Regions from separate parts of the Homo sapiens genome. Here regions 2, 3, 4, 5 and 6 are each reported to be linked to region 1. The links are microRNA targets in miRTarBase. Many come from high-throughput screens and were not tested one by one. Region 1 holds a microRNA gene; each other region holds the end of a gene's coding sequence.
Evidence for each region. The annotated mature microRNA hsa-miR-33a-5p reads GUGCAUUGUAGUUGCAUUGCA and lies in region 1 at 3,107-3,127, shown strand. An mRNA with a match to its seed (bases 2 to 7 or 8) in the 3' UTR can be bound and repressed. Matches are read on the target gene's strand: a 7mer-m8 pairs with bases 2 to 8, a 7mer-A1 pairs with bases 2 to 7 and ends in A, and an 8mer does both.

Region 2: miRTarBase lists NR2C2AP as a target of hsa-miR-33a-5p. The part of its 3' UTR that is shown has no 7-base or 8-base seed match.
Region 3: miRTarBase lists SGMS1 as a target of hsa-miR-33a-5p. The part of its 3' UTR that is shown has no 7-base or 8-base seed match.
Region 4: the mRNA of DSC3 is a reported target of hsa-miR-33a-5p. Seed matches in the 3' UTR shown: 8mer at 3,530-3,537.
Region 5: miRTarBase lists CEBPG as a target of hsa-miR-33a-5p. Seed matches in the 3' UTR shown: 7mer-A1 at 2,451-2,457.
Region 6: miRTarBase lists FBXO30 as a target of hsa-miR-33a-5p. Seed matches in the 3' UTR shown: 7mer-A1 at 3,496-3,502.

Annotation. Positions count from the first base shown.
Region 1 is chr22:41,897,843-41,902,932 of GRCh38, forward strand. MIR33A (microRNA 33a) reads left to right here and starts at 3,102; the gene lies at 3,102-3,170. SREBF2 (sterol regulatory element binding transcription factor 2) reads left to right here. Exons shown (of 19, transcript NM_004599.4): 15 at 807-939; 16 at 2,488-2,656.
Region 2 is chr19:19,197,734-19,202,733 of GRCh38, reverse strand. It overlaps NR2C2AP (nuclear receptor 2C2 associated protein), which reads left to right. Exons shown (of 5, transcript NM_176880.6): 3 at 159-264; 4 at 336-403; 5 at 693-1,325. The coding sequence ends at 809. It overlaps RFXANK (regulatory factor X associated ankyrin containing protein), which reads right to left. Exons shown (of 10, transcript NM_003721.4): 7 at 4,502-4,627; 8 at 4,011-4,077; 9 at 3,500-3,580; 10 at 868-1,085. The coding sequence ends at 1,015. Among named protein-coding and RNA genes, the nearest start is that of NR2C2AP, 3.2 kb to the left of the region's middle. RefSeq lists a silencer at 78-344.
Region 3 is chr10:50,302,848-50,307,937 of GRCh38, reverse strand. SGMS1 (sphingomyelin synthase 1) reads left to right here. Exons shown (of 11, transcript NM_147156.4): 11 at 617-2,338. The coding sequence ends at 796. Among named protein-coding and RNA genes, the nearest start is that of ASAH2, 54 kb to the right of the region's middle.
Region 4 is chr18:30,990,041-30,995,130 of GRCh38, forward strand. DSC3 (desmocollin 3) reads right to left here. Exons shown (of 16, transcript NM_001941.5): 16 at 1-4,332. The coding sequence ends at 4,135. Among named protein-coding and RNA genes, the nearest start is that of DSC3, 50 kb to the right of the region's middle.
Region 5 is chr19:33,379,405-33,384,494 of GRCh38, forward strand. CEBPG (CCAAT enhancer binding protein gamma) reads left to right here. Exons shown (of 2, transcript NM_001806.4): 2 at 1-3,282. The coding sequence ends at 288. Among named protein-coding and RNA genes, the nearest start is that of CEBPG, 8.2 kb to the left of the region's middle.
Region 6 is chr6:145,795,755-145,800,844 of GRCh38, forward strand. FBXO30 (F-box protein 30) reads right to left here. Exons shown (of 3, transcript NM_032145.5): 3 at 1-4,555. The coding sequence ends at 4,352. All of the region lies in intron 1 of EPM2A-DT (EPM2A divergent transcript), which reads left to right. Among named protein-coding and RNA genes, the nearest start is that of FBXO30, 16 kb to the right of the region's middle.

The sequences.
Region 1 (5,090 bases):
CCGCTGGTTTTGTGGGATCACTACTGTCATCATTTTGCAGTTGAGAAAACTAAGGCTGAGAGAGGAGAAGACTTAAAATATTCTAACAGGAGCCTGTTCCAGATACTTTGAAGATACCATTCTTTATGGCTATTGAAAGCTTAGGTTGTATCCATCTTTTTATTTAAAAACAACACTGCAGTCAAATATGTGTTAAACTTTTTTCTCTCTAAGCCAGTTTCATTATGACAGACTGCCAAAAATGGGATTACTAGCTTAACGGGAGTGAACTTTTTTATTTTTTTTGAGACGGAGTCTTACTCTTGTTGCCCAGGCTGGAGTGCAATGGCACGATCTCGGCTCACTGCAACCTCCGCCCGCACCGAGGTTCAAGCGATTCTCTTGCCTCAGCCTCCCTAGTAGCTGGGATTACAGTCACCCGCCACCATGCCCAGCTAATTTTTTTGTGTATTTTTAGTAGAGAGGGGGTTTCACCATGTTGGCCAGGCTGGTCTCAAACTCCTGACCTCAGGTGATCCACCTGCCTCAGCCTCCCAAAATGCTGGGATTACAGGCGTGAGCCACCGCGGCCAACCAGGAATGAACATTTTTAAGGCTCTTGATATATATTGCCAAACACTTTCCAAGATTGTGCTGGTCTATTCCCCTCCCCCAGAATCCTGGGTGTGGGAGCCCAGAGGCTGCTGGCCCGTTCCCAGCAGGCAAAGATGTTACCCATCTCCTAGGAAGGAAGTGTAGCAGCCTCTGAGCGCCACAGGTCTCGTTTCTGTGGGTGCTGGAGTGCGTTTGGTGCTGTTCTCCTCTAGGTCCAGACATCATCTGTCGGTGGTGGACGTCTGCAATCACTGTGGCCATCAGCTGGCTCCAGGGAGACGATGCAGCTGTGCGCTCTCATTTTACCAAAGTGGAACGCATCCCCAAGGCCCTGGAAGTGACAGAGTGCGTAACCCTCCTTGGCCACTCACTTGCTTCTCTCCAGGGGAATCTTGTTTGAGTTAGCAGGAGCAAACTGGACTGGGTGGGCGTGTTGGGGTGAAGGGTCAGGACTGCATGACAGGTGGGCGGCTAGAAAAGTCGGGGGTGAGGGCACCATGGAGAACTCAAGTTGGGCCAGCAGGTCCTCTGTGCAAGTGTCCTGCTCTGCACAACACGACAGTTGTCCCAGCAGCTGTCAGCACTGTGTCCGGGTCCTCCTCCCTGCAGCCTTCATGGCGCCACAGGCTGAAAAGAAGAGACGAGAGCAGTGTGGCCCCCAGCATCTTCAGAAGCTTTGTGGTGGAGGCAGGCACTGGTGGTTCACAATCAGTGCAGAGAGGCCACTGTTGCCCCCAAAACTCATGTGCACTGGAGCATCTTGCCCCTGTGTGCTAGCATTTTATCCACTTTCCTTCCAGCCACCTCCACCCCCACCATCAACCCTGGCAACTTTGTCCTGTAACTAAAATAGCCTTTAGCACATGGCATAACCGGAGAGCTTTTGACATTCCTCTTTGGAGATTCATGTCTGCGTCTTGGGGGCATTCGGCACTAGTGATGGGCAGCCCTGCCTGCTGACTCCCCGGCTGTTTCTAATTGGATCTGAGTATTCTAAGAGAAACTGTAAAATGCTCCAAGACAGAAAGGCCCCACGAGGTCCTATCCTTAGAGCCAAGGCTGTAGCATTTCCTATCAAGCAGACCCTTAACCGGCGCACAGGAAGGAGCTGAGAAGAGTGAGTATACACAGGCTTGAAGTCCTTTGTTCCCTGAAGTAGATGTGACACCCTAATTTCATTGAAGTAGCCCCATTTGTAAGCACTCTGACTAGGTAAGCACCCAGCCCGGTATAGCATTCCACCTGTATGTGTGTCTCCCCCAGTCGATGTGCCTGAGGACACTGAGACTCAGCAGGTAAGTTGTCCAAAGTCACCTCGCTCCAGAGCAGCAGAGCTTCCATGGACAGCCAAGACACCCCTGCAGGCACTGCTGCCTGCTGGATTCACTTACCCCTGGGTCCCTCTGCTTTTCAGGGACTAGGATGCTATGAGAACCCTCCCCCATCCCTAGCCTCCCCTTCCACTCCCAGTCTCCTCTACAGAAAGAAGCTAACTAAGTATCTCCAGAGAGTTTAATACCACATCTCTGGGGGGGTGGTCCCTTAAAGAACGGGTACAACACCTTATTGTGGCCACTTTATAGGTAAGGAAACTGAGGCACACGTTGGAATGACTATCTTGGGTGGCTTCTTAGCAGCAGACGTGATGGTGAAGCCTGTGTCTCTGACTTCCAGCATTGAATGAAGGTGCTAAAGGGTGGGGCGCTAACCCTAGCTCAGGGCTGGCATTTCAGATCTGGAGCTGGTGGCATGGTGCCATAGTGGCAGCATTGGAGTCAACAGATGCACATGTCATATCAGTGTGGGGCGTGGCAGTCACTGGCTTGGGCCCCTCTGCCTGTCACGCAGGTGACACATAGTGACCTGCCTCTCGACTCCCTGTCACTGCTGCAGGAGCCCCCTGGTGAAGGCCATCTTCCATGCCTGCAGAGCCATGCATGCCTCACTCCCTGGGAAAGCAGATGGGCAGCAGAGTTCCTTCTGCCATTGCGAGAGGGCCAGTGGCCACCTATGGAGCAGCCTCAACGTCAGTGGGGCCACCTCTGACCCTGCCCTCAACCACGTGAGTGGGAGCTGAGTTGGCCCCTGGGGGAGGTGCTCTGCACTGGTTTACGAGAACACTCCCACTCACCTCATGCTGACCCTGCGGGTGGGGCCATCCGAAAGACAGAGAAACCAGGACAGCAGCCCCCTTTCAAAAAAGTTACGGCTTATTGGCCTAGGTGGACTCCTTTTTCATCCCTTTTCAGCCTCTGAGGCAAGTGTGTTTCTACCTGCACCTTTCTTAGGCTCCCAGAGTCCCAGGTCCTGCTGGCCCATAGCCTCTGTAAGCCCAGGTGCACCCCAGCTGGCCAGGGGTTCACCTGCATTTGCTCCAGCGGTTTGCGTGACTTCCCAGGCCTCTGCAGGCAGCCTTGGAGTGGGTTCCTGCCCCCTCGGGCACACAAACAGAGCTGAAGACCACCCTGGGCACCTCCTTGGCTGGCCGCATACCTCCTGGCGGGCAGCTGTGGTGCATTGTAGTTGCATTGCATGTTCTGGTGGTACCCATGCAATGTTTCCACAGTGCATCACAGAGGCCTGCCTGGCCCTCGAGAGACTGCCCTGACTGAAGGCCCTATCAGGTGGGGGAGGGGATCCTGATAGAGGGCACTGCTGCCACTGTTGGGGCCCAAGTCACAGCCATCCCAGGAAACAGGAGGGCACCCAGCTGAAAGTGGAGCATCACCTGGTCTACGGGGAACATGTCCTTAGCTCCAGAGTGGGAGGGACCGGGAGAGTCCTGGAGATTCAGATTCTCAGCCACTCCCTGGGGCTTGGTCTTAGCTGGCTAGGCTAGTACTTCAAGCTAGATATTGTCAGTGGACCTGGGCACTGGGATGAACCCAGGACAGCGTGGCAGCCCCTACAGGGACAGGCAATGTGCAGAAAAGGCCCAAACTGGCTGGACGCGGTGGCTCACACCTGTAATCCCAGCACTTTGGGAAGCTGAGGTGGGCAGATCACCTGAGGTCAGGAGTTCGAGACCAGCCTGACCAACATGGTGAAACCCCGTTTGTACTAAAAATACAAAAATAAGCCAGGTGTGGTGGCATGTATCTGTAATCCCAGCTACTCAGGAGGCTGAGGCAGAAGAATCACTTGAACCCAGGAGGTAGAGGTTGCAGTGAGTCGAGATTGCACCACTGCACTCCAGCCTGGGCAACAGAGCGAGACTCCATCTTTAAAAAAAAGCTGGTGGGGGTGCCCAAATGCCCTGGGCTGCCAAGACCAAAGGCAGATGGTGAGCCACATTTCACCTTCTCTTTTGGGCTTTCCATTAGTCTCTTCCGTATTTGTCTTCATGAGAGAACCAAACAGTACAGGCTCAGTTTGGGGAATGAGAGGCTTGCAGCCACCCTTTGGACTGGGGTTCCTTGGTAGCAGCTCTGTGGTAGGAAAGTGAGCCTAGAAGACAACGCCATGCAGCCTGATGGCCCTCGGAGGGCAGAATCCAGACATAGGCCTGCTGCCTCCATGCCCACAGGTGCTTCTGCAGCATGCACAGCTTAGAAGTGCCAGGTTTTGAGGAGAGGGATCCTTTTCCACATCCCCTTGAAGCACACAACAGCCAGAAAACAGTGTAGGCAAGGATCAAGGCCTTGTGCAGGGACAGGGCAGGGTCTTCCTCAGGCCCAGTGTCCTGGGAAGGAGGAAAGCCAGGGCTGGGTGAGATGAGGCTCAGCCTGAGGGAGTTCATCAGGACCGGAGGGCTGCTTGCGGCCCATCTCAACAAGGACTCCTCACTGCTCGGTGTCGTGCAGGTGTGCCACTGCGAGCCGGGTGGGCAGCCCAGCCCCATAGGTCGTAGGCAGAGAGTATGCATGGCCCACATGCAGTACCTTCTCATATGATACAACAGCCCTGTGATGGTGCCATTTACATTTTTTTGAATGAAGAAACTGAGGCTCAGAGAGACTAAGTCCTATGCCAGGGTCATGTAGCTAGTAAGTGGCAAAGCCGGGTCAGTAGGCCTAGTCCCCAAGCACTAAGGCACTCTGTGGTTCTGTCTTCTGAGACACCTGTCTCCCTCTCCCACTCCTCCTCCTCCTTCCCCCAGCCCCATCGACAGGCTCTGCTGCCACTTCAGGCTTTTCCTTGGTACCTTGTGGGTATCTCAGCCTCCTAGCCAGCCATGGTGGGACTCCCATGGGGTGGAAGAACCTGCGCCTTCAACCCACAAGGGTTTTATTTCTGCCCCTGCCACCTGCCTGTGCTGTATTCCCTATACAAGCTGCTGTCCCTGTCAGAGCCTTGCTTTCTCACCTGCAGAATGGGGAGGGCTTGTCTCCCACCTCCTGGGGCCATGGAAGGAACTGGTTCTCCCCTGAGCTGTTCCCTCACGTCCTGCGGAGTTCACCAGACTCTGGGGCTCTCCACTTCCTCCCAGAGCTGCTGAGTGTTGGTCTGGGGAGAGGCCTGGTAGGTGCTAGGATCCTTGCCTCAGGGATGGGCCA
Region 2 (5,000 bases), not on the chromosome of region 1:
CTTGAGAACGTCAGGGGGCCCTCATGGGTGGCCAGGAAAGGAACATGTGCCGAATTTCCTTCTTCCCCTCCATTCCAAGAACTATGTGAATGAGACAGGCATAGCAGGGCTCTGTGCCTGCAGTGAGCTTGCGCCTCAGTTTCCCTGTCTGCTTCCAGGGCCCCTCCCAGTGGGTGACGCTGGAGTTTCCCCAGCTCATCCGTGTCTCCCAGCTGCAGATCCAGTTTCAGGGTGGCTTCTCCAGTCGCCGGGGCTGCCTGGAAGGTACTAGAAGGCCCTGGGTGGCAGGGGTTCCAGGGGTCACCCCAGACACTCATTGCCTTTCTCTGCTGAAGGTTCACAGGGCACTCAGGCTCTCCACAAGATTGTAGATTTCTACCCTGAGGACAACAACTCGCTTCAGATATCCTGCCCCTGCTTCTGGGGTGGGTGGTCTGTGCCTCTGGAAGCTTTGGACTCACCCAAACCCGAATGGGAACCCTGATGTGTGATCTTGAACACGTGACCTCTAGGACTCCACTTTTTCTGTAAAATGGTGCTGATGACCACCTGTTCTGTGTGAGAGGCTTAGAGGGACCTGCAGCTTCCCCAGGTTGCCCACATCGGTGGAGTGTGAGCTGGGTCTGGAAGGGGTGGGGGCCTGCGGGTGGGAAACCAGAAATCACCAGTTTCCCTTGACTGCCCACGCTCACACTTTCCCCATACCAGCTGCTGAAGTGGACCGGCTGAAGGTGACGTTTGAGGATGCCACTGACTTTTTTGGCCGTGTGGTCATCTACCACCTGCGGGTGCTTGGGGAGAAGGTGTGAGACCTCTAGGGGCTGTCTCCTCCAGGAAGCCCTCCGGGAAGCACAGCAAAGTCCCTCATTCTGCACAGAAGGTTTATTGGTTCCTCTTGGGAAGGGTCCCCTCCCACCACCTGTCCAGAAGCTGCCTTTGAAGTCAGTTCTGGGTTTCCCCAGCTCTGGCTGACCATTTTGTTCCCTGAGTGTCTGAGTCCCCGGCAGGCGGCCTTCACTCAGGGTCAGCGGGCACCAGGTTGCTCTGGAAGAGCTTGAGGATGTGGTTCTCGATCACCTGTTGCACTGAGATGGGGCAGGGAAAAGGTGGGCTGTGAGCTTGAATCGGGAGTGGGGTGGAGGCACAGGCCAACCTGCGCTCTCCCCTTAGGGGACAAACAGGGACCCTTGCAGAGACCTGCATTACAGAGCAAAGCTGGGAGAACCGAGGACTCACCCCAGGAACCTCAACTTCCCCTAAGTTTGTAAAAATGCACTTTTGTAGCTTTTCAGAATTAATATAAAAATATTTCCTACCAAGCAAAATGTGTGAATTGTGACTTTCATGAAAAGATGAGCCTGGGCATGGTGGCTCACACCTATAATCCCAGCACTTTGGGAGGTCCAGTGGGGAGGACTGCTTGAGCTCAGGAATTTGAGGCCAGCTTGGGCAACAGAGCAAAACGCTGTCTCTACCAAAAAAATTTAAAAATTAGGCTGGGCTTGGTGGCTCACACCTGTAATCCTAGCACTTTGGGAGGCCAAGGTAGGTGGATCACTTGAAGTCAGGAAAGGCCAGCCTGACCAACATGATGAAACCCCATCTCTACTAAAACTACAAAAATTAGCCAGGTGCAGCCGGGTGTGGTGGCTCATGCCTGTAATCCCAGCACTTTGGGAAGCTGAGGCGGGTGGATCACCTGAGGTCGGGAGTTTGAGATCACCTGACCAACATGGAGAAACCCTGACTCTACTAAAAATGCAAAAAATTAGTTGGGCATGGTGGTGCATGCCTGTAATCCCAGCTACTTGGGAGGCTGAGGCAGGAGAATTGCTTGAACCTGGGAGGCGGAAGTTGCAGTGAGCCGAGATCACGCCATAGCACTCCAGCCTGGGCAACAAGAGCGAAACTCCATCTCAAAAAAAAAAAAAAAAAAAAAAAAAAATTAGCCAGGTGTGGTGGCAGGCACTTGTAATCCCAGCTATTCAGGAGGCTGAGGCAGGAGAATTGTTTGCCTGGGAGGCAGAGGTTGCAGTGAGCCGAGATTGTGCCACTGCACTCCAGCCTGGGTGACAGAGCGAGACTCTGTCTCAAAAAATAAATAAAAAAGATTTTAAAAATTAGCTGGGTAGAGTGGTACATGCCTGTAGTCCCAGCTACTCAGGAGGCTGGGGAAGAAGGATCACTTGAGCCCAGGAGTTTGAGACCAGCCTGGGCAACATAGCGAGACCCTGTCTCTTCTAAAAAAACAACAACACAGCCAGGCGTGGTGGCTCACACCTGTAATCCCAGCACTTTGGGAGGCCAACACAGGCGGATCACAAGGTCAGGAGTTCAAGACCAGCCTGACCAACATGGTGAAACCCCGTCTCTACTAAAAATATAAAAATTAGCCGGGCGTCATGGTGTGCACCTGTGGTCCCAGCTACTCAGGAGGCTGAGGCAGGAGAATCGCTTGAACCTGGGAGGTGGAAGTTGCAGTGAGCCGAGATGGCGCCATTGCACTCCAGCCTGGGTGACAGCGCGAGACTCCATGTCCAAAAAAAAAAAAAAAAAAAGCAACAACAAAAAATTAGCCAGGCATGGTGACGAATGCCTGTGGTCCCAGCTACTCGGGAGGCTGTGGTGGGAGGATCACTTGAGCCTGGGAGATCGAGGCTGCAGTAAGCTGTGCCTGCACCACTTCATTCCAGCCTGGGTGATAGAGCAAGACTTTCTGCCTCGAACAAAAAAACAAACCCCCCGAAAACATGAGGAGGGAAGAGGAATGATTTCTGTCCCAAACACAGTAAAACTCTGAAGGAAGGAGGGGGATATTTCCTAAGCACCCCATCTCTACCATGACCCCAGGGGGTCGGTTCAATTGGGATCTCCCCATTTTATGGATGGGGAAGTTGGGGTCCCATTGTGACAGAGAAAATGGAGTCAAACTGGGGTCTGCCTATGGCCCCTGTTCAAACCCACTGCCCGCCACGGAGAGGGATGGCCTCTGTGGCTCTGTGCACTATGGCCTGGTCGCCTACCCCTTGGTGTCCTCACTGCCAGGCCTCCGCAGGGGCCACTCCTCCCACCTGGATGCCATTCTCCCTCCCTTCAGGTCCCCCAGAATCCTTCCCTGACCTCCCCATCCCAGGGCTGGGCCCACCTCACTTCTCGGGGTCTCAACCTTAAGACACCTTCCTCCAGGAAGCCTCTCTGACTTCTGTTGGCCACTTTGGGGCTCTTTGATGAGAGGCCCCTCTTTCGGCCTCTCATGCCTATGTGTCCCCCATCATGGCCACAGCCACTGACACCCATTGTCCTCCCTACCCCAGCACATGTGGAGCCCCAGGAGCCAGGACTGGGATGTTCCCAGGCGGGATACACAGCAGTGCTCAACACCTGTCAACACACTCTCGCTGCCGGCGTATGACCACTGAAGGGGTGTCCCATGTACCCCTTTATGGTCACCCTGCCTATGGAAGGGACCCCACCCCTGCTCTGTGTGTCTCAGGCTGACCTTTCCGGTATCCCAGGGCCACGGCAAGGTCCATCGGGGTGTAGCCAGAGTCGGCTTCGGTGGTGAGGTCAGCGCCTCGGGCTGCAAAGGAGAGGGGAGGGCGCTGGAGGGTGGGGCCTGGGAGTCCAGAATGGGGTCTGGGGACCTGGGAGATCCCATGGCACCCCTCATTCCCCACAATGCAGCCGTGGGTCTGCCCGTTGCCCATGTGGCCTTTGACAAGGGTCCAACCTCTGCTATCTTGGTCTCCACTGAAGAACGTGGCTGAAGGGTCTCTGAACCATGGAGGATGGAGGTGCTTAGCCTCTTGGCCAGATCCTAAACCCAGACCCCGACTCCCGTGTGGTCCTACCACCTCCTCCCCTCTGATCCATCCTCCGAGAAGAGCAGGCAGGGACTACCTGCTCCAAGAACTCTTCAAGCAACACTTGGGCGTCTCCCTGCCCTCAGGATTCCCGCAGGGCCCGCTGGAGTGCTGGGGCCCCCAGGGCCACTCCCGACTCCCACTCACCCAGCAAGGCCTCAACGCATTTCACGTGGTTCCCGCGCACAGCGTACAGCAGTGGCGTCCCTCCATTCTGTCGTGGGTAGGGGCAGGAGAAACCAAAGGTTTACCTCTTCCTCATTCTCAAAATGCCTTGTACTCTCTGGCCTCCAGTTGAACGTGGTTCCTCCTGCTCATCACTGGGCCCATCTCACTTTCTGGGGTCTCAAGCTTAGACACCTTCCTCCAGGAAGACCTCTCTGATTTCCCTTGCCCACATGGGGCTCTTGTAGCCACCTGTGCATCTGCCATCGCAGCGCAGTTCACTGCATCTCAGCTGCCTGTTTCCATGTCTGCCTTCCCTGCATGGGGAGCTCTGCTCTGTGAGGCTGGGAATGGGGCTGTCTCGTGTTCTCGGCACCTAGAGCAGGCCTGCACCTTTCAAGTACTCTGTGAACATTTGAGGCAGGAATGAAGGCCAGGAGGCTGAGAGGTCCTGGGGATGGGCAGTCCCTCACCCAATCATAGATGTTGATGTCCACGTCACGCTCCAGCAGCAGCCCCACAATGTCTGTGTAGCCGCCTGTGCTGGCCAGCGACAGGGCGCTCTCTCGCTCTTTTGCCAGGATGTGGGGGTCGGCACCCTGCAGGGAGAAGAAGGGACAGTGGTAGGATGGATTGGGGCATAACCAGGAATCCTGGGGTACCCACAGCAGCCGCATCTTTTTTTTTTTTTTTGGAGATAGAGTCTTGCTCTGTTGCCCAGGCTGGAGTGCAGTGGCGCAATCTCGGCTCACTGCTACCTCCGCCTCCCAGGTTCACACAGTTCTCCCACCTCAGCCTCCAGAGTACCTGGGATTACAGGCACCCACCACGACGCCTGGCTAATTTTTGTATTTTTTTAGTAGAGACAGGGTTTCACCCATGTTGGCCGGGCTGGTCTTGAACTCCTGACCTCAAGTGATCCACCCGCCTCGGCCTCCCAAAGTGCTGGGATTACAGGCATGAGCCACTGCA
Region 3 (5,090 bases), not on the chromosome of region 1:
TGATGTTGCTGGCTTGGACAGGGTGCAAAGAACCTGTGGATGTCTGAAGTTTCTCTTTCTTAAGTAGTAATCAACTAAGATTGTATTGTTTTTTTGTGACATTGATTCTCTTCAGAATTAAGAATAAAAAGTTTATTAATATAATGATGTGAGGAATTACTTCCTTCTAGAATAAGGAACGCACTTTCATTGTCCTTGAAAAATGAAAAATATTTTCTAAGCTTGTGTCCCTCCTTGCTTGATTTGCTTTCCTATCCTCTTCTCCCTACCCGGGGCACATCACAAGCTTAATATTTAACATTTAATTAAGTGTTAACATTTTTAGCATAGAAGAGGAATACCTAAAAAGCTAACTGAGGTGTTTATTTATAAGCAAGAGATGAGTGAGCCATAAGTTCTCCTTGCCCTCCCAGAATTGGCGTTGTTTTTCTACTGGGATGTGGCTCAGTTTGTAGATGAATGTGGAGTGTAGAATGGTGATGAGAGAGAGAAGCTGGGATATGTGGGTGGACACGCAGGGCAGGTATGGAGTCCTTTGGGAATTTTAGCGTGGCAAGTATTTGAACTTAAAGTGAAAGATTGTAAGAAATGTGTTTATGTTTCTTTGTTATCCTAGGTGCTAAAGGAAGCTTCCCAGATGAACCTCCTGGCCAGGGTGTGGTGGTACAGGCCATTTCAGTACTTTGAAAAGAATGTCCAAGGAATTGTACCTCGATCTTACCATTGGCCTTTCCCCTGGCCAGTAGTCCACCTCAGTAGGCAAGTTAAATACAGCCGGCTGGTGAATGACACATAACAGCTGTACAAAGTGGGGAAAAGACAAATTGTCCGAAGTGCTAAGAACTCCATGAGAGAAGATGCCATAAAATAAACACCTCCCTAATCCTATTATCTTTCAATGGTTACCTTGACTTAACCTATTGAGTTACCTGGTCAGCACTGTGATCTTTTTTTCTCTCCAAAGGACCTGCGTTGGACAACAATAAAGAAAAATTTAACCTATCATGCACTGTACACATTTCCTGTTCATAAGTTTGGGATTTACATAACCCGCAACCACCATGTTCCTTTGTATATGATGCAGCAGCATAAATGTAAGCTTTTATATCATAAGTTCTGGTCTTTCCAGTCACATCTGGAAATAAAGCGTATTATTTTCTTGGGAAAACATACTTTTCATATCTCTTGCCCCAAAGATTGGGCTGTAAGCCATTTTCTAGCAAATGTCTCTATGAAGGTTTCTAAGTACCTGAATGGGGTTTGATTCTGAAATCTTTCTACCTGTTGCACCGATATTCAAATAAAAATGATAGACACAGAAAGGTTTGGTAACTTTGGGTTTTGTAAAATCAGCAAAGGCAGTGTTTCAAAAAGTGCAAAAAAAAAGATTCTGTTATAAAGTGATTTTCTAAGTATTTCCTAACTTTATTTTTCAAAATGATGTTATGAACACCAAATTTAAAGATTTTTAACATGTCAGAGAGAAGAGAGTTAAAATTTAAAAATGCATCTTGGGAGAGAAATTTGTCTATGTTTCTAGTGCCTTTCTTGTCTTGATTGTATGGTCAGTAGGCAATCTTAAATGTTTTTATTTAAAATAAAGTATTCCTTGAAAATATAAATATATGTATACACTACTAAATTTTGCATTTATAGCTAAATTGAATCAGAAGACTGCTTATGGTTTTAAAATTGCAATGACTTAAATAATGAGGTTGTTAATTAGAGTCAGAGCCTGTTCACATATTGTGATCAGGTAGCAATGACATGTACCACTTAAATTATTTTATCGTCGATTTGGTAGTTCAATTTTAACTACTCAATGAAAACAGCCATGAATATCTTTTCTTAAAGAGAGTTTTGAAAATGATCACTTACCTAAAACTTGAAAGCTATGAATTAGTTATCCATACTCTCATGACAATTTTGTTGGTGAACAACAAAAAAGAGATCTATTTCTTTAAAAGATATTTGTGCAGAAACTGCATGTAACTCTAAGTTTTACTCCTAACATACATATGTTTGGGGAAGTATTCTATTCTATACTTGCCAATGTGGAGAACAAAATAGTTTTTTAAGAATGAAGAAGTATATATATCCATTCTGTATTTTACGTGCAGCAGAATTATCTTCCGTAGGATTTTTTTGTGTATTCACAAGGTGATATTTGTATTGTAAAACAATAATGGTGAAGGAAATAAAAAGGCTTTTAAAATTTTGTTTGTTTTAAATCTTTGTAAAGTTATTATTCCAGAGAGTATACTGGTATCTTACAGCTTACCTAGATCATAAATTAATCAAAATGCACTTTTTAATAAAAACTGATACTTAAAATAAATGGCTGTTATTTCTACTGTGTTCACATTCTTCACAGAAGTCATAAATGGAGCCATTAAAGCAAGATAGAAAATCAGTTTCAGAATTTCTTCATGGAGTGTTTCTGCTTGACATGGGACTTTTAATAATTATCTGGATTTTTTTCCTTGGGATTCCTTAAAATATATTCTAATCTTTAGTAAATTCTAGAGAGTTTTTTAATATATAAAAAGAGTCACATGTAAGTTAAATTCAAACTTTAGAACAATGTTTACTAACATTTTGAATTCTCTAATTCTCAACCAAATTGTTTTTTTTCCTATATCTGGCAGTAATATAGCTTCTCCAGTGTAGATGGAAAGGAAAAGTAAATCCAAAGTGAGAAATAGAGTAATAGTACTATGATAAACCAGTGGTAATGGAAAATAACTATTTAAAAAGAATAAAAGGTTATTATTATTTCTGATGTGGTGACTAAAGGAAAATGTCAACAGTGGAGATGTGTCTTTGATAAAGGATGTGTTAAGGAGGCTAGAAATGTAAAACCAGAGGCCAGGTGTGGTGGCTCACGCCTGTAATTCCGGCACTTTGGGAAGCCGAGGTGGGCTGATCACTTGAACCCAGGAGATTAAGACCAGCCTGATCAATATGAAACCCAGTTTCTACAAAAAATACAAAAATTAACCTGGCACGGTGATACATGCCTGTGGTCCCAGCCTCTCAGGAGACAGGTGGGAGGAGCGCTTGAGGCCGGGAGACAGAGGCTGCAGTGAGCCATGACCGTGCCACTGCACTCCAGCCCCAGCAAAAGAGTGAAACTCTATCTCCGAAAAAAAAAAAAAAGGAAATTAGAACCAGTAAAACTTTTCCTGTGTGGGGCTTTAAACTTGTGTATCAGACAGGGGAAATGTGGTGGCCTCTTTAGGCAAATAGAGCCAAACCCTTGGATAGGTCTTTATTTAACTGTTATAGCCTTTCACTAACTTTGACTATCAGCTGCTGCCATATTGAAGGGAAAGTAAATTGAGTAAGTGGAAATGATATATTGGCACTTGCTAAAAATAGGATTTTTTCCCTAAAAAACTAGAAATCATTATATAAAAATTTGTTATGAGTTTACATGCCACATATGTATCAAGAAATCCACTGCTGATTGTTCTTCATGGCTGACTACACTGATTCATGAATTGACATATCTTCTGGGTCTCTAGTGTGCAAATCCCAGGAAGGACAAGGAGAAAGCTCATTGTATTCTAGAGTATCATTGTACACTTGGTAAGGATTGCCTGTATAAGGACATGTGCTTTCTCAATGTCTTTTTTTTTTTTTTTTTGGCTCACTTAAGTTAGACATTTTACATGTATTAGTTAACCCTCACACATCCACAAAGTGTAATTATTATTGCCATTTTACAGATAGACCAACCAAAGTGACTCAGATATATTAAATAACTTGCCCAAGGGCATGCAACTGGTAACTGGTAAAAGTCCTATTGGAAGCCAAGTTTCCCCCCTCCCCCATCAATACTGTGAGCTTTCATAAACTCTTCAGTAAGAGTCTGCAGTGAGAGAAACCTATGCCTATGGTGGTAAAGCATACTCTCACCATGGACTGAGGAGCAAGAAATTTACACCATAAGGTGTGAGAGGAAAATTTGACTGATTTCCTAATTGCTATATGTTTTATTTGTATCCCAAGCACATGCCAAATTTTGATCAATGTGATAAATATCTCATAATACCTCATACAATGGAAATGCATGCCAACCTTAATTTGACCACCAATATACAAAAAGTCAACCAGATTTCTGAATTTACTAGAAAACAATATGTTGCTTGGATCACTAGATATTGACATCCTTTATTTTTTTTTCTCCCTGTAGTCAAGAAACAATTTGAACAAATCAAAGCTGTTGACTTGGTATTCTGCTTATCAGCACCTTAAAATACTTATCCATCTCCTAGTTTACAGTACAAGTCAGAAGGAAATTAAATGACCTTTCACATTTAAAGTGATAGTTGATATAACTGAATGAATATCTATCATGTTTGTAACTCTTTTCTGTTTGTTGCATTTGTCCTCTCTTCATCCCTTCCTTTTTCTGTCTTCCTTTAGTTTTGAACAATTTATGATTCTATTTTATCTCTTATCATACCAGTTATTCTTTTTACGAATTTTTAAATGGTTGCCCTAGAGTTTACAATATAAACTTTTTTCCAAATACAAGCCTGCCTTCAAGTGTAGTGTAGGCATTTTATAACAACACATTCCCAATTTCTCATTTCTGCCCTTAGAACATTGATGTCATTCATTTGACTTATCCATATGGTATAATCACTCAACACATTATTACATTTATTACTTTGAACAAGCAATTACCTTACAGATCAATTAAGAACAAGTAAAGATTTTGTTCATCTTCACTTATTTATTCTCTGATGCTCTTCTTATGTAGTTCAAGCTTCTAACCAACATCATTTTCATTTTGCCTGAAGAACTTCCCATTTCTTGCAGGGCAGGTTGGCTGGCTTTTTTCTTTCAACATTTTAAATATTTCACTCCACTTTCTTCTGGCTTACCTAGTTTCTCACAAGAAGTCTGCCATAATTTTATTCTTTTCTTCTATAGGTAATATGTTTTTTCTCTGACTTCTTTCAAAAATTTCTCGTTGTCTTTGCCTTTCTACAGATTGAATATGAAATGCATAGGTGTAGATTTTTTTTGGTGAGGGTGGTATTTATTTTTGGTGTTCTCTGAGCTTCCTGGGTCTGTGG
Region 4 (5,090 bases), not on the chromosome of region 1:
ATTTCCCTAAAAAGAGATGAGATATTGTTCGGTAGTATATCCAACTACATAATTTTACCAACTACCTCACACTTATAATTCTTTTACTATGTGCAGGCAGTGTTCTATGTACTTTAGGTATAGTAACTCATTTAATCATTCAACAACCCCATGAGGCTGGCATTGTTCATTGATTTTAATGAGAAAGCTAAGAGAGGAAATAAGTAGCCTTTCAAAGGTCACACAGAAGTAAGTGACAGATCCAGGATTCATATCCAAGCATTCTGGCTCTAGTGTCCATGCTTCTCAACCATTATGACCCAATATTCAACCAAATCAATACTGAAGGACACGTGAAATGTATCCGGTATTTTACTATTACAAACAAAAATCCAATGAACATTCTTGAAGACATACACAAAAATAATGGTTACAATAGAAGTTACTGGAATTGAAATTTTGGTTCAACCTATATTAAAATGTAAGGCTTTTGATATAGCTAATAGATTTTTGAAATGATCAGTCTTAACGTTTGTAGGGGAGCACACTCCTGCATGGGGAAAAGATTCACTGTGAAGCACAGAGCACCTTTATGGTTGGATCATCTTGTCATTAAAGTTCAGGCGTTATCTATCCTGTAAGTGGCAGAATCAAGACTGCAATATCGCCTGCTTTTCTTTTTAACTCATGTTTTCCCTTGACTACACTGGTCCTCAAAGTAAAACCCCTGTGTCAGTGTACTATTCATGGAATACTCTGCAATTATAACCACCTTCTAATACTTTTAATACCCAATCAAAATTTATTATACATATGTATCATAGATACTCATCTGTAAAGCTGTGCTTCAAAATAGTGATCTCTTCCCAACATTACAATATATATTAATGATGTCGACAATTTGATAATGAAACATTGTCCAAAATATTCCCCATTAATACAACAAAGACATAATTATTTCTATTTCCATGCCAGCCATAAGCATAATTTTGCAAAGTGATCATCTTAGAATTATTTAATCTCTAAATACAGCAAAAACAAGAAACCAAGTTAATATTGTTTTATTACATCTCCCCACATCTGTAAATATTACTTTACGCATCCAATTTTTGCTTATTTTAAGCAGCCAAGTTTCTTTAAAAGCAAAGTAACTTCTTTTAATAGCAATACTAAAACTCTGTTTAAAACATTGCAAAACAAACCCCACTGCATTTTAGACAGCTGCTTCCTTATAAAAGTAAGAAAAAACATTCTGTATATTTACATAAAAAATTCTAAATCATTCACTGGGGGAAAAATGAAAGCTTTAAAAATATATTTTCTTGCACACTCAAATACCATAAATTTCACCTTACACATATAAGGAAATAATAATACTACATATGTGAAAATATAGAAATGAATCCCTAAAATTAAATTTTCATTTGAGAGAAAAGAATTACAAATTCGGGCATACATGCAGACCAGGTGGTTTTCAGCATGTTCAAAGAACAAAGAGATGGTTAGAGGTTTTATAAACAGGGAAGTGATACTGGTTGCTCTTTGAGAAAGTTTATCGGCACTAGTAAAGTCTTGGGGAGGTAGCAGGTTTTGATCGGTGAGTGAGGGAGTGAGCAAAACACAGTGGGTGTTTCAGTAGCCGTTAGATAAAACTGGCTTCTGGATACAGCAGGAAATTTCAGCAACTAGGCTTACAGAGAATTCCATTCTCAGACCAATATTTTGTGCCCTGAGTTCTTTCTCCCCCTGGCTTCTCGACTGTCTTTTGGTTGAGTATTTCAAGATTGATCCAATTCGTATGATCAACTTTCACACATGTTCAAAATGATTACATTAAAAGAAGACGACTTTAAACGGAAAACAAGGCCGGGAGCGGTGGGTCATGCCTGTAATCCCAGCACTTTGGGAGGCCGAGGCAGGCGGATCACGAGGTCAGGAGATCGAGACCATCCTGGCTAACACAGTGAAACCCCGTCTCTATTAAAAATACAAAAAATTAGCCGGGCGTGGTGGTGGGCGCCTGTAGTCCCAGCTACTCAGGAGGCTGAGGCAGGAGAATGGCGTGAACCCGGGAGGCGGAGCTTTCAGTGAGCAGAGATCGGAGCCACTGCACTCCAGCCTGTGCGTCAGAGCGAGACTCCGTCTCAAAAAAAAAAGGGGGGGGGGGGGGCAATAAAAAGTCTAAGTCTAAAACACATAGATTTTAGGGTCAAATTAGAAAACAGAAAATGTAGGAATAAATCAGAATTTTAGATAGGCATTTAATTCATAGACCTTCTTAGTGCCCAGAAGGAGGGCTGCAGAAGGAATACAACAATTCCCATGAATGCCTTGTTTGTTCTGCACAACCAGTTCAGGCTCATCCTGCAAATGCCTTCAGACTCATCATGCAGTCAGCTCTGTCTCCTTGATTTCTCACTCCAAATAAGGTGAGCCATAGAGAAGAGGTTGGCTGATCCCTCACCGGACTCAAATGGCAGTTGCCATTGGCCTGAGAAAGGAAAAGGCAGTGCCAAGCCTAGGAAAAAGTATGAAGCAGACGATGTTGCTTTTACTCCCACCCATATTCCTTGTGGCCTCTCCTTGCCCTTGAAGGCCTGCATCTTCCTGTTGCCCTCTGACTGTACAAATAACCTACTTGGGCTGCTTTCTCCCAAAGTTCCCTCTGTTCTAAAATGACAACTTGATCTTTTTCTTTTATACATTCAAAATTTCTATTTCTTCTATTATTTTAAAATTTCTCTGGAGAAAGCAAACTGATTAAAAATTAATTCACGCTGAAGGATGGTGGAAAACCTGGAGTCACTTAAGGGAATCTCTGCTGGAGGTGTTGCTTTAGCAGAAAGCCGAAAGAAGGGGGCCCACAAGGCCTGGCTTTCCTTGATTCAGGCCAATGCCACTCAGAAGAAGGGCAGTGAGGAGAAAAATGAAATTTTGTAGCTCCCAGACCTGATCAGGTGTCAAGTTTGTGGGGCTTAGGTTTAAGGACAATCAATCTCCCCAGGGTGCTTTCAGTAAGATCCTCCCCTCAGCTCCCTCTAGCCTCTAAACTCTAGGAGGACATGGTTATTTGGATCTAAATTAAAAAGATGTTGGTCACTATAAGAGAGAATAGAAACAGCAATAGAGGATTTAACTTCAGTAAAGGTAAGTTTTAAAATGTTTTTGTTATTAGCTCCCCGAAAAAAACACCTCATCTCTGGACCCTTGCTACCAAAAAGCAGGGAACCCCAGCTGCAGCGAGTATTCCCCAGTTTGCTACTAACTTGTGGATGCAGAAATCTTGAAACAGACTGCAAAGCAAAGCTACTGTTCCATTGGATTCCCTATTTCCTTCCCACAGAAACCAGAAAAGTTTAATTTATTTACAATTTTAAACAAATTACACAAATTGGACAGGAACTATTTCCTCATAGACTCAGTTATAATGCAGCATTTAAGAGCCCAGGCCTAGGAAGCTCTCTCTTTTTTCTATTGTAGGACAAACTATACCCCAGCCTCATTTCAAGTTTTTACCATTTTCCTCTTTGTTCTCATTTCATTTTAAATATTGCATTGATTAATAATAATATACACACACACATTTATTTCCAACTATATTCCTATAGAAAATTGCTACTTCATAGGGCACTTCAACACATTTTGCCTCCAAAGTCAAATGAATTTGGTAGTGCAGTAGGGGTGAGTCCCAATTCTTTATGAGCTGCAACATTTTTAATTTAATTCAGTCTTCATTGTTTCTTTTCCAAAACTTTCTTCACATAGTGATACTCAATATTTCTTGTTTATTTTTTAAACTATCACTTAAAGTGAATACATAATAATGTGATATTAGCATAACTTAGCTATTGTTGGACTAATATTTATCCAGCATATTTATTACTAAAATATCCGTAAAAAAAAAAAAGAGCAGATGCTTTAGAGACCTTAATTCCAGTGCTGGAGTTTGAGATTTACCAGTTGTCTGTTTTAACATTTTTCACTTTTTGGAAAAGATAAGCAACAACTTGCTTTAAAAATATAAATTGGTGAGTAGCATAATTCAAAATTGAGAAAAAAATCATCATATACATACATGTTGAAATTGAACTTTACAATATTATTTTTGGAAACCTCCAGAATGTCTGACAAAGACCTAATTGTAGCACTGTGACATTATCTCTTTGTGCATGCTTCTGCTAATGTAATAAATTTGGGTTCCAAATTATTTAAAAAGTCAAGGCCATCTTCTTCCTGCTTTTCACTGCAGCAGCCCACAGAACCAGCTGGAGATCCTCTTCCCTCATAGTTATAAGTGAGGACATAATCTTGGGATGGCATGCGGTCTTCATTCTGATTACATCGATGCAATTTCTGTAAAATTTTTTAAAAAATGAATTGCATTATAGTTTTAAACAACTTAAATATATGAACATAAAATTTATTTTTATTTACCTTTTATGTTTAATTTTTAACCAGTGTGTCCTCTAATGGATTCCTACACACAGAAAATGCAAATGATTGGTCTATATCACAACCATACCATAAAGTCAGTATAGTTTACATTTCTAGTGCTCCATATAAATAAAAAATTATGTATACAAGTTTTATATTTAAGTACATTCAAGTTGTCATTAAATGCTTATCCCTAAATTTTATACACAGAGGTCAGTCTAGTCTAAAAAATAGAGACAATAGTCATACTGGTTAGGAGTTTGAGATAGGATGTCAAACAGCCTTGGTTGTGAGTCAAAGCTCTGGCTTTACCAACTAGCTATATGACTTTGGGCAAGTGACCAAATATCCTTTAGTCTCAGTGACCACCTAACAAGATTATTTTAGAAATTAATGACAAAATAATGACGCATAATACACTTATTATGCCCAGCACATATTAAAGGTACAATACATGTTAACTTGAATCACTATTATATGCAGTTATAAACTAGGTAGGATTTACCACATTAACTTCAGAAGCAAGTTTCCAAGATACTCAAACATGGCAAAATATATACATGCATCGAAAAGTTCAATGAAATTAAAAAGAATGAACATGACCCATATTGCAAAAACTGGGCTTTTATAATGAAGACGCCATGCATTCAGCCACATCTACCCTCTCTGCCACTGGC
Region 5 (5,090 bases), not on the chromosome of region 1:
TCGCCCATGGATCGAAACAGTGACGAGTATCGGCAACGCCGAGAGAGGAACAACATGGCTGTGAAAAAGAGCCGGTTGAAAAGCAAGCAGAAAGCACAAGACACACTGCAGAGAGTCAATCAGCTCAAAGAAGAGAATGAACGGTTGGAAGCAAAAATCAAATTGCTGACCAAGGAATTAAGTGTACTCAAAGATTTGTTTCTTGAGCATGCACACAACCTTGCAGACAACGTACAGTCCATTAGCACTGAAAATACGACAGCAGATGGCGACAATGCAGGACAGTAGACCTCACCCTTTCCAGACTTTAGAGCTTGTGGCTTGAATGTTAAAGGTGTGACCACCGACACCACTCATGTCAATGGCTGAAAGTTGTCCATTTCCATGACTCAAAGACCCATTGGAGGCTATTTTCTGGGATCAGCACTGAAGAGTTGATTAGCTAAAAATGTTAGCCTTGTAATTCGAATATCTGGTTTTAAATGATAGAGGTTTTTGTGGGAATCAAAATCCCCCAAATGTTAAGGTATATGGTAAAAAAAGAAATATCTGGGATCCCGATGTTCTTAATAAATCCTGACTTCCCAAGAAATGCTTCTTTTTTAAGTTGACAAAAGGAATGGGGAACTGGCAGGCCGCGCAGAAGGTTCTTGGTTTTAATGGATAGGCTGAATTGGATTAAGAAAAGTTGAATGCCACCTATGGTAATCTATTTGTGATTTTCTTCTAAATTATGTATTATAAATTCGTAGAGCTATAGAAAGCAATGAGTGTGTAATTTGGAGTGATTTTATATATGGCATAAACTTTGTTTTAACATAATTAGTACTGTTTTCCCCCAAAAGTACAAGTTTTTGAGTAGCAATGTCAGGTTAAGTAAAGAAACTTCATCACATCTTATAGGTAGTGTGTGGCCAATTGACTTAAAAAATACAAATAACATTTAGGAAGCAAATAGATTAAACACAAAAATAAAACTAAAGCATAGGAATTATGTTTTTGAGATACCTTTGGGCTTAGATTGGCATTGTTTTATTCTAAAAACCCAACTCAGTGGTGTAGAGAAACTTGTGTACCAAAATTTTAGTTTCTGCAGATGCTAGTGTTTTTTTGGATACAATTTTGACAACCAAGTTAGTAAACAAAATATCTTAACAGTTTGATGACACAAGCTACTGATGAGGGTTTGGAATATTAATTCAGAAGGTAGTTTCTCTTGTGTTCAAAATAGCTGCCATGGGGCTGTTACTTTTAAAGTCAAAATTTTCTTCTGAAGGCTCATTTTGGTATTTGATCTTAACCAAGTGATTATTAGAGAAATGTATCAACTCCATGCCATCTCCCAAAATAATTGTCTAAGAAAACTTGAAAGTGTAAGGTTTTAACCTTTAATTTATTTCTCTTAAATACATCTTTTGATATTGTTGTTGTGACATTTCTTTTTCTGGTTAGTGGGCTTTCCAGACTTTGTACCACTGCTTCTGTTTATTCATTTATATGCTTTTGTGTCCCATAAATTATTTCAGAAAATGCTGATAAAACTCAGGATATTGACATTTTTGTTGAGACTAAAAAATGGCAGTCGCTAAAGTAGGGACTCTAGAGTCTGGCTTACGTCAGTGTTGGTAGTTTAGATTGTCTTTGTCAACGTTTTTTCTTCTCTCTTTTGCTTTCTTTTCTTTCTCTTTTTTTCTTAGCACAGTTCTAGCTCAAATTTGTGTATTTTTTGTGTGCCTGGGCTGGAGATGAGAGACTGAGTCATAACTGATTTAAAAGTTTGTGTTATCAGGTATCTTATTTGAACATGGTCATTTTTGGCCACATTGCTGTTTCATACTAGGACTTGGGATGATGTAGCCAGAATAAAACTCAAGTTGCACCCTCCGGTTGGTGGAAGATTGCTGACCGTGCCGTTTCTGGGCAGGAGAAGACATCATGGTGTCCAGCAACTCAGCAAAGCCATTCTTAAGAGTCGTGAGGTCCTTCTGAATGTAAAACTGGAGCCCAGGAGAAGCTGTCCCAGGAGGGCTGTTAACTCCCTATAGAGCCAGGAGACAGGATAGGGGTTTCTAGGGTCCAACACCAGCTTACCTTGGAGTATGAATCTACCCATGAAGGATGAGAGATGTTTTGAAAAACTAGCCAGGACACACCCACAGGATCCTACTGGCTCCTTAGCAGCTGATTGGTGTTACATAATTAACTTAATTGGAGATGCATTAGGTCACTTGAATGTATAAGCAAGCACCTATGGTAGGCGCTACAGACATTTAAATCTCTTGGGAATTCGATGCTCCCATGGAATTTATACCAGTTATATGAATTGACTTAAGTATCTTGAAAAAGAAACTTTAGAGAAAGCATCAGGGGTGTGTACTCAGTATTTCAAATCAGAACACAAGATTGGAACTTTTGGAAAAATGGGTTCAAGCTTTCCTATTAGCCATGGAAATGCAAAGTTTAGCAGAAGCAAGCAATTAGGCAGAGAACAAAAATGTTAAGCATGGTGTTGTCTATCTTATTGAAGTGGTTGGAAATGAAAGCTTTTAATTTGATAGATTTATCAGTATAAAATTAGGGAAACCACGTGTGGGGAATGAATCAATTTAGAGCTTCGGGAATTGTGAGGTGACTTTTGTAACTTTTGTTCTGTGTGTGACCTGTGAACCACTAGGATGTGATCTGCCCTTGTGGGCAGGTCCAGCATAGTTAGGAGTTAGGCTTTAGCATAAATTTCTAGCTGCATCTGAGTCTCCTGGGATGGGTGCTCTTTGGCTGGTTTTGGCTGCGGATGGTGAGATCAGAGCAGCTCTTCCTGCTGCTGGCCCCTGCAATCAGTTGTTGGGATGCCAGTGCAGATCACTAAGTAGTAAGATTTTAATCAAACACGACCAGGTCCGAAATGCAGGTCATGAGTGTGAAATTCTCAAATTTACATAAAAAGTAGAAGTATAGACAGTTTAACATTTGGTATTAAAGGAGAGGAAATTGTAGCAGCTTTTCACGTTTCCCAGTCCCCATTAGAGGGCTTGAGACCTTGTACCTGAACAACCCATTTTGCACTCAGTGCTTTCTGATGCCTTAGGAGAATTGTTTTGTTTCACAAAAGCTGGGAAGGAAGAAGTCCATTCTGCAGCTGTTAGATCTGCCTCTCAGGAAAAAGTACTAACTTGTTCTTTTTGTTCCTGGCTTTCATCAGTTTGTGAGATTTCTCTATTTTTTTTAAATATAATTTTATTTCTTTCAACAAATATAAAATAAAAAACAACTTTGGAACAATGACTTGTCTTTCATCGTGGCTTTCTTTATATTAGATACCAAAAAGCAGTCCAGATGTTAAACAGCTGGGAAGCCCAGGCAGGTGCCTTGCTGTCTTTCCTGTTCCCACACTGGACGGCTGGGGGTAGGGGTGGGGAAAGTGGGGAGACAGGCAGAGGTATTTGTGTCCAAGTCTAGATCTCCCCGTTTGCCCTTAGTGGATAGGAAAATAGTTTTCTCTGAACATGGGATACATCTTTAGTTATATTTTTAGTCACTTGGTCTAAACTAAAAATTATACCAGAATAGGGAAAGGAATAACTGAATAAATGGGTTCCCGCTTAATCACCTAGTGTCTCAGAACATGGTTTCCATTTAGAGAGGGAAGAAATTCTTATGTTTCGAGATAGATAGTCAAGAATTTAAAGTAAGGCCTTTCCCCATCTGGAGTTTTGTAGTACATGTGGACACTGTCCTCATTTACGTCATAGAGTGTCTGTAGAGATGAATTTGCTGATTTCATAAACTGTTGAGTCCAGGGAGCTGATGTGAATTGAATATTTCAAGGGAATGCCATTTAAATGCTTTTCTTCTCTGATGCCTCAATTATTTTCATGTCTTGGGAAATAAATCTCTGCTTGCTGCATCTTAATGAAAAGTGGAGGTCAGGAATTATTTCTATGGGAAGTGTGGCCCGTTTCACTTTTTTGAATTAGTTGTGATTTAGAATCCAATAACGTGTCTTGGGGAATTTTACCGAGTGATGACATCTTTGTGAGGGGGGCCGGTCTTTTTCTGACAAAAGCACTTTTAGACCAGCTCATCCACTGCCTGTGCCTAGCCAGAGAGTTCATAAGCGTTTTACAGTTTTACATACATTCAGAGAACACCATTGCCTAGGTATTCTTTTACTGCAGTATCCCACTCCTCACAGAGCTCTAGGCCTGAAAGCTGTATAGAGGCATCTAGAGAAATGGGGGTTATAGAATTGGACTTGGAAAAGGAATAGGATTGTCAGTGAAACAGTCACGCGTTACACTTTTTGCAGCCCAAACGCCACCTCTTGTCCCTCCCTGTAAAGAAGCTGTTAAAACCAGATGCGCTTCCACATCGCCACCTTTCACTTCCACCTTCTAAATGGAGCTCCGGTACCTGTCTGCTTCACCCACCCCGACCCCCATGCAGAGCCATCCTCTTCGCTTGCCTGGACTTGGTGACTGGCTCCTCGTTGGTGTTCCTGGATGGCAGCGTCACTGCCTGCTCTCCAGAACCATCTGTTGCTCCCCATTGCACCCGGGGTGAGACTCAGTCTCCTTGTGTCGTGGCGTTTCCCCTCATCAACTTAATTTCCCTCCATCCTCCTGTGTCACTCTACTTCGGCTCTAGGGCTTTTCCAAGCTCTTTTCTGCCCTTCCTGGGACAGCTCCTTCTGTCTGGAATGAAGCATCTCCTCTGGCTTTTCACTAACAAGTTCCCTCTCTGTCTCAGCCCCCTGGCTGTCTACGCTAAGCCTATCCTGTTGCTTGCTTCATGGCACTTTGCAGTGTTTGAGACAATATATTTGTTCATGCTGGTTTGAGGTGAAGGCCTCGCAGCAGACTAGAGGCTCTGGAAGGAGGGGTCATGTTTGTATCCTGCACTGGCAGAGTAGATGCTCAATTATGTATTGAATGAATACCTAGACACTGAGTTTCAGAAGGGTTGTAGCACACTATACAGCTTTCTGGCGGGGTCTCTAATGGATTTCTGAAGCTACATGAATTTCTGCAGAGGTTAGAAGAGACAGAGTTAGGTACAAACATGGGGGTAGCGGAGGTAGCTACTGGGGCCCT
Region 6 (5,090 bases), not on the chromosome of region 1:
CAAGATGTATCGCCATTAATACATCTCAAGGTGTACTGGCCAATTATGAAGATTATATATGTCAAATAAACATGTATAAGCAATTTATTTAAAAAAGTTTAATCATAGATGCAATAACCTACTTGTAAAATTCAGCAAGAGGCCCTCATTTCGCAAAGATTTTCAGAGCAACATATCACACTTGGTTAGTTAGTTTCCTTTTGGTATTGCTCCAAAATGCTTTCCAAAGCAGTAGGAATCAAATATCCTAGGCAACATTTTCCAAATTTCCTTACATCTAAACATCTCTTTTCTTCCTGCATTCGTAAAGTGAAAAAGTGATCTATGTAAGGACATAATTCTCTCTCAAATATCCCAGTACACTAATCACTGCCTAAATTTTGAGTACCTATTTTCTCATCCATAAAATTCAAATTTGAAAGGTTTTATCTCTTGATCTCACTTTAATCTTTTAAATAAAGGGAAATAATTATGTAAAAGATGACTTCAAAAGCAAACCATCTTTCCTTTTCCCTTATTTAGAAAGGACTTCATTAGAGTTGATCTTTTCTGAATTCGAACTTTGCTTTTTTGGAAATCAGACAAATCCTGTCAAACCCCATTATTAAATTATCTTAAACACCATCAAACAAGTCACTGATGAGTTGATAAAGGTATAACTAATATTCTCTGCTTCCTAGACCTTATGAGCATCTTAAGTAAGACTACTTAACAGCAACGTTTAGATAACCAGTCAAACACCTATCAGAGAAATTCTTTCCATCAAAAGTCTGTCCAGAGAATGAGGGCCAATTGCTTTCTCTCTACTGCACTTCTAAACAACCAACTCTGCAAGCTCCAATCACATCACCAATGTGGCATGTCATGCATGAAACAAACACATTTTAAAATATTTGAATAACTTTTCCTTAGGAAATTTTAAAATTAATAAACCCCATGTCTTTTCAGGTTGGGATGCAAAACATGAAGAAATCTGTTTTGCTTCCAAACACCTAAAACTAGTCAAATCTCCACAGGCAAAACTGTTATCGATATAGTAATATAAACTACCATATCTTCAAGGGATATGGAAGTTTTGCTGAAAATCCTATTATCAGCAACATTACTAAGATCCCAACATCCAGTGTTAAAGGACAGATATTAATAGCAACAACATTGATGAGATAGGCAGCACAGAGTCAAAGATCAAAAAAGATTCTATACTACTTGTAAACAAGAGATCCAATCTTTCATAACATCTTATTGATAGGGTTGAAAAGATCCCTAAAAATATTTTTTGTAGGATTTAATCCAATATTTGTCTACTTCTACTCTTTGATTACCCTACAATTTGAATATGTTCACGACTCTACAACCACTAAACAAGAGAATGAGATGACTAGGCTAAATGTTACTGCTAATGAACTAAAATTTGCACTGCAATTTACCTTGAACAGAAGAAACACTAGTAAAATTTTAGTAAAATTTTAAATACTAGTAAATACTAATTTAAAGAATACAAGTCCAACAACTACAGTACCCAGTGTATTTTGTCATATGGCTGTAAAATTGAGACAACATATATAGTTTAACCATTAATAAATTACCATTACTGACTTTTGGATTACACATATATTTATACAAACACACACAGGTACACACATATATCCACTCCAGTAATGCACCAGAGGGTAGCTGGCATGACCCAGTCTTCCCTCTAAGTTCTAATACTTTACTGTGCGTTAGAATCACCTAGAGATCTTGTTAAAACAGATTGTTGGGTCCCACCCCAGAGTTCCTGATTCACTAAGTCTGGAGAGAAGCCTAATAATCTGCATTTCTAACAAATTCCTAGGTGTTGATGTTCCTGCTGGTCCAAGGACCACACTTTAGGAACCACTGCTGTAAGATCTGTGAGTCTCAAAATCTAGAAAAAAGAGTGAGAGAGGGAGAAGGGAAAGGGAGAGGGAGAAAGATTAAGCTAACAGGCAGTATTGAGGAAGGAGGCAGAGGACAAAAGTGAATTCAAATACTTCCCTCCATCCCGATGCTTGCCTTTTACCTTGCTATTTAGCAAAGACTAAGGAATCAATGATGACTTCTCAAAGTACAATCTATTAGGCCAACATAAAAACCTTTTCATACTTAAGAGGAGAGAGAGATGGTTTCCATGACAACTTTTAGAGCTATAACCATGCTAGAAACTCTTCCGCCTTTCAGTGCACCTAGGTGGTATTACTTTCGAGACACTGAAGGATCAGAGAAAGCTAACTAATGCGTGTCTCAAATTTTAAAAAAATTAAGGTTCACTAGTAAAACATGGGTGAGTAATGATGATAATCAACAACTACCATAACATGCAGAAAATCCACATTACAGAAACAATATGATTGTGTTGGAATTTGTCAAACAAGTATTAAAATTTTATTTAAATGAACGTTTTTAAGTTATTGAGCCATGTTAAGGGAAAACATTAATTTTATTAGAACTTGAACAAATGTTTCACAAAGAAAACATTTTAACAAAATGGTATGGTGGCATAACAATAACAAAAAAGAGAACAGCAAAATGTGTAAAAGAAATATAAGGTGGAAAAATTGTTAAGTATCTCATAATCCAGTGTGGAAATAAGAAGTCTAAATTTAAAAACAATGAATTTTAAAAAGCATAACTATAAAACAAAAGTTAATGCTTGTGCTATCCTAACCACAGACACATTCTTCAGCAAAACTTTAAAAGGCAGAGTTACATTTTATGGTATTTAATATCTCTTTTCTGTTGTTTTTTCCACAGAAATAGAGACTGTTTATTCAATCTCACAGTTGAAAAAGAAATTTTAAGCACTGAGAAATAAGTATTCTACTATTTAAAATGACTGGTGAGGCAAAACAATTGATTAGTCTTTAATGCTCTGTTTTTCAACTGTACTAAGGACTTCATCCAACCAAAACAAATCTTAAGCTTCAGAACTCTCTAATGCTTAAGGAACGCCTCTGCCTGATTGCCATATAAGGGAATCAAGAACCTAGTAATCGTGGAGTACTCTCAGGGACAAATGTAGGAAGAGAGGACACAACAGAGTTTTCACAATTTTAACAAGTAATCTGTCACCATTTCAGACTACCAAATGCTAATTTACTTAAGACAAATTATTTAAGTATATATTCCCACCTTTGCAATTTATTTCTAAATACTGATATATTCATTTTTTAAGCAGACCACATCAGGTTAATAATGGTATAAATCAATTTGAAAACTATAATAAACTACTTCAAGAATAGGTATATTTTTCCATTATACCTTGATCATTATGTAAAGATGCAATTCTTACTTTCTTGGTGGTGAAGCCTATGGGAAATTAACTCGGAAATGTTTCAAAGAGATTGTCAACCAAGACAGGTTTCTACATGATTGTCATTTTACAAAGATAACAAATTTCACGTTTTTAAATGTCTTAAAACAACATAGTTGTAATGTTTATAAACATCAAAGGCAAACATTTAATAGTCAAGCCCTTTGCATTCTGAATATTTGAAATTTACACAATACGCCCAATTCAAACCTAAATGAGGTATATTTTCTTTTAAAACATTAGATAACTAGCAAATATATAATACCAGGAGCAGTTTCAAATTAAATTATATTCACAGGCTTGCTTTTTGTTTGTTTTTGCTTTGTCCTGTCATATAACACACTGCGATGAGTCTTCGGATGTGGCATCTAACAAAAAAGAAAGCTGCACATGGTCACTCTGTGTGTTGAGTTGTAAGTATGTGAGATAAAAACATCTTTGTGGATTATTTTTAAAACGATAAACTGCATTACCAAACTTTATGATTTTACGTATGTAAGTATATATTAGAGATCATTTGTGCATTAACAATTGTATAGGGAAGCACTAAAAGACAAAAACATTATAATGATATTATGGCAGTGCTTAACAAATTCAGAATATTTTTATATGAAAAACCTATGCTGTAAAAAATCTCAATCAAAATTTTGCTTTTTGATTGCATGGGTCGCAACCCACAGAAAACAACAAATAAATTGGTCAGGATTTTTTTAGTTTAAGAAGCAAAAATTTAAGAACCAAAATATGCACACCACTGAAAATACTAATTCTTAAAATTATGTAGCTAAAAATTAAATCACCCTGTCCAGCAAGTTCCAAAAATTTCACACATTTCAAACATTAAGGCAACTTTTTCCAACTAAACAGTACTTTATAAAAATAGATGTCACTTCAAAACATTATATACACAGTGACAATAAATTTAGCTAGTTGTAATATTTAATACATTAATAAAGTTTCACATATTACAAAGAAATTATACTAGGTGCTTGCATATATGTGCTAGTAATATTACAACTTTTAAAGTACAGGTTTTAAAACTGAGCGTAGTGAACGTCCTTCTTTAGTGAGTTCTCGTGTCACACACATACATGGCAAAGGGATTGCTTCCTCCCGTTTCTCGACAACATTGTAACTGCATTTCTTCAAGTGGTCTGCCATGCTTAGGATGTCAGCAAATTTCCATTCATTAACAGAACAAAATGCAGTACTAAATCGCCATACCTACAAGAAAATTCTACTTTAGATTTAAACAAGTCAATGTGTAGAGAATCAAAACACACTTTTTGCTCCTACTGCATACATTTCTGCTATTATAGAAGCATCCAATATAAAGTTTCAAATAGCTATAAAATTAAAAATTGGTAAATCCTTTTGGACATAAATGTATGTCAAATATTTACAAGGTAAATCACTTCTATGACATTATGACTTCAATAAATCTAAAAACAATAAAAGACAAAACTCAGTATTAAAAATCACACCCAATCTGGCTTACTAAATGATTTTTAAAAAATCAAAACTGCACAAATTCAGAGCCATTTCCTAAAATATTATATACTACACACTATTCTTTCATACTCTCCAATTGGCTATCTAGAACTAATTACACTCTGGAGATACTGACAATGCAAGTGTTATTTTTTTTCTCCAAGTTTTTCTCTCCCATTCCTATTTATAATATCAGTACTAAAAAATACCCTAGAATATTGTGTGCCAAGGTAAGTTTCTTTTTCCGCTGTTCACAAGTACTAAAGGT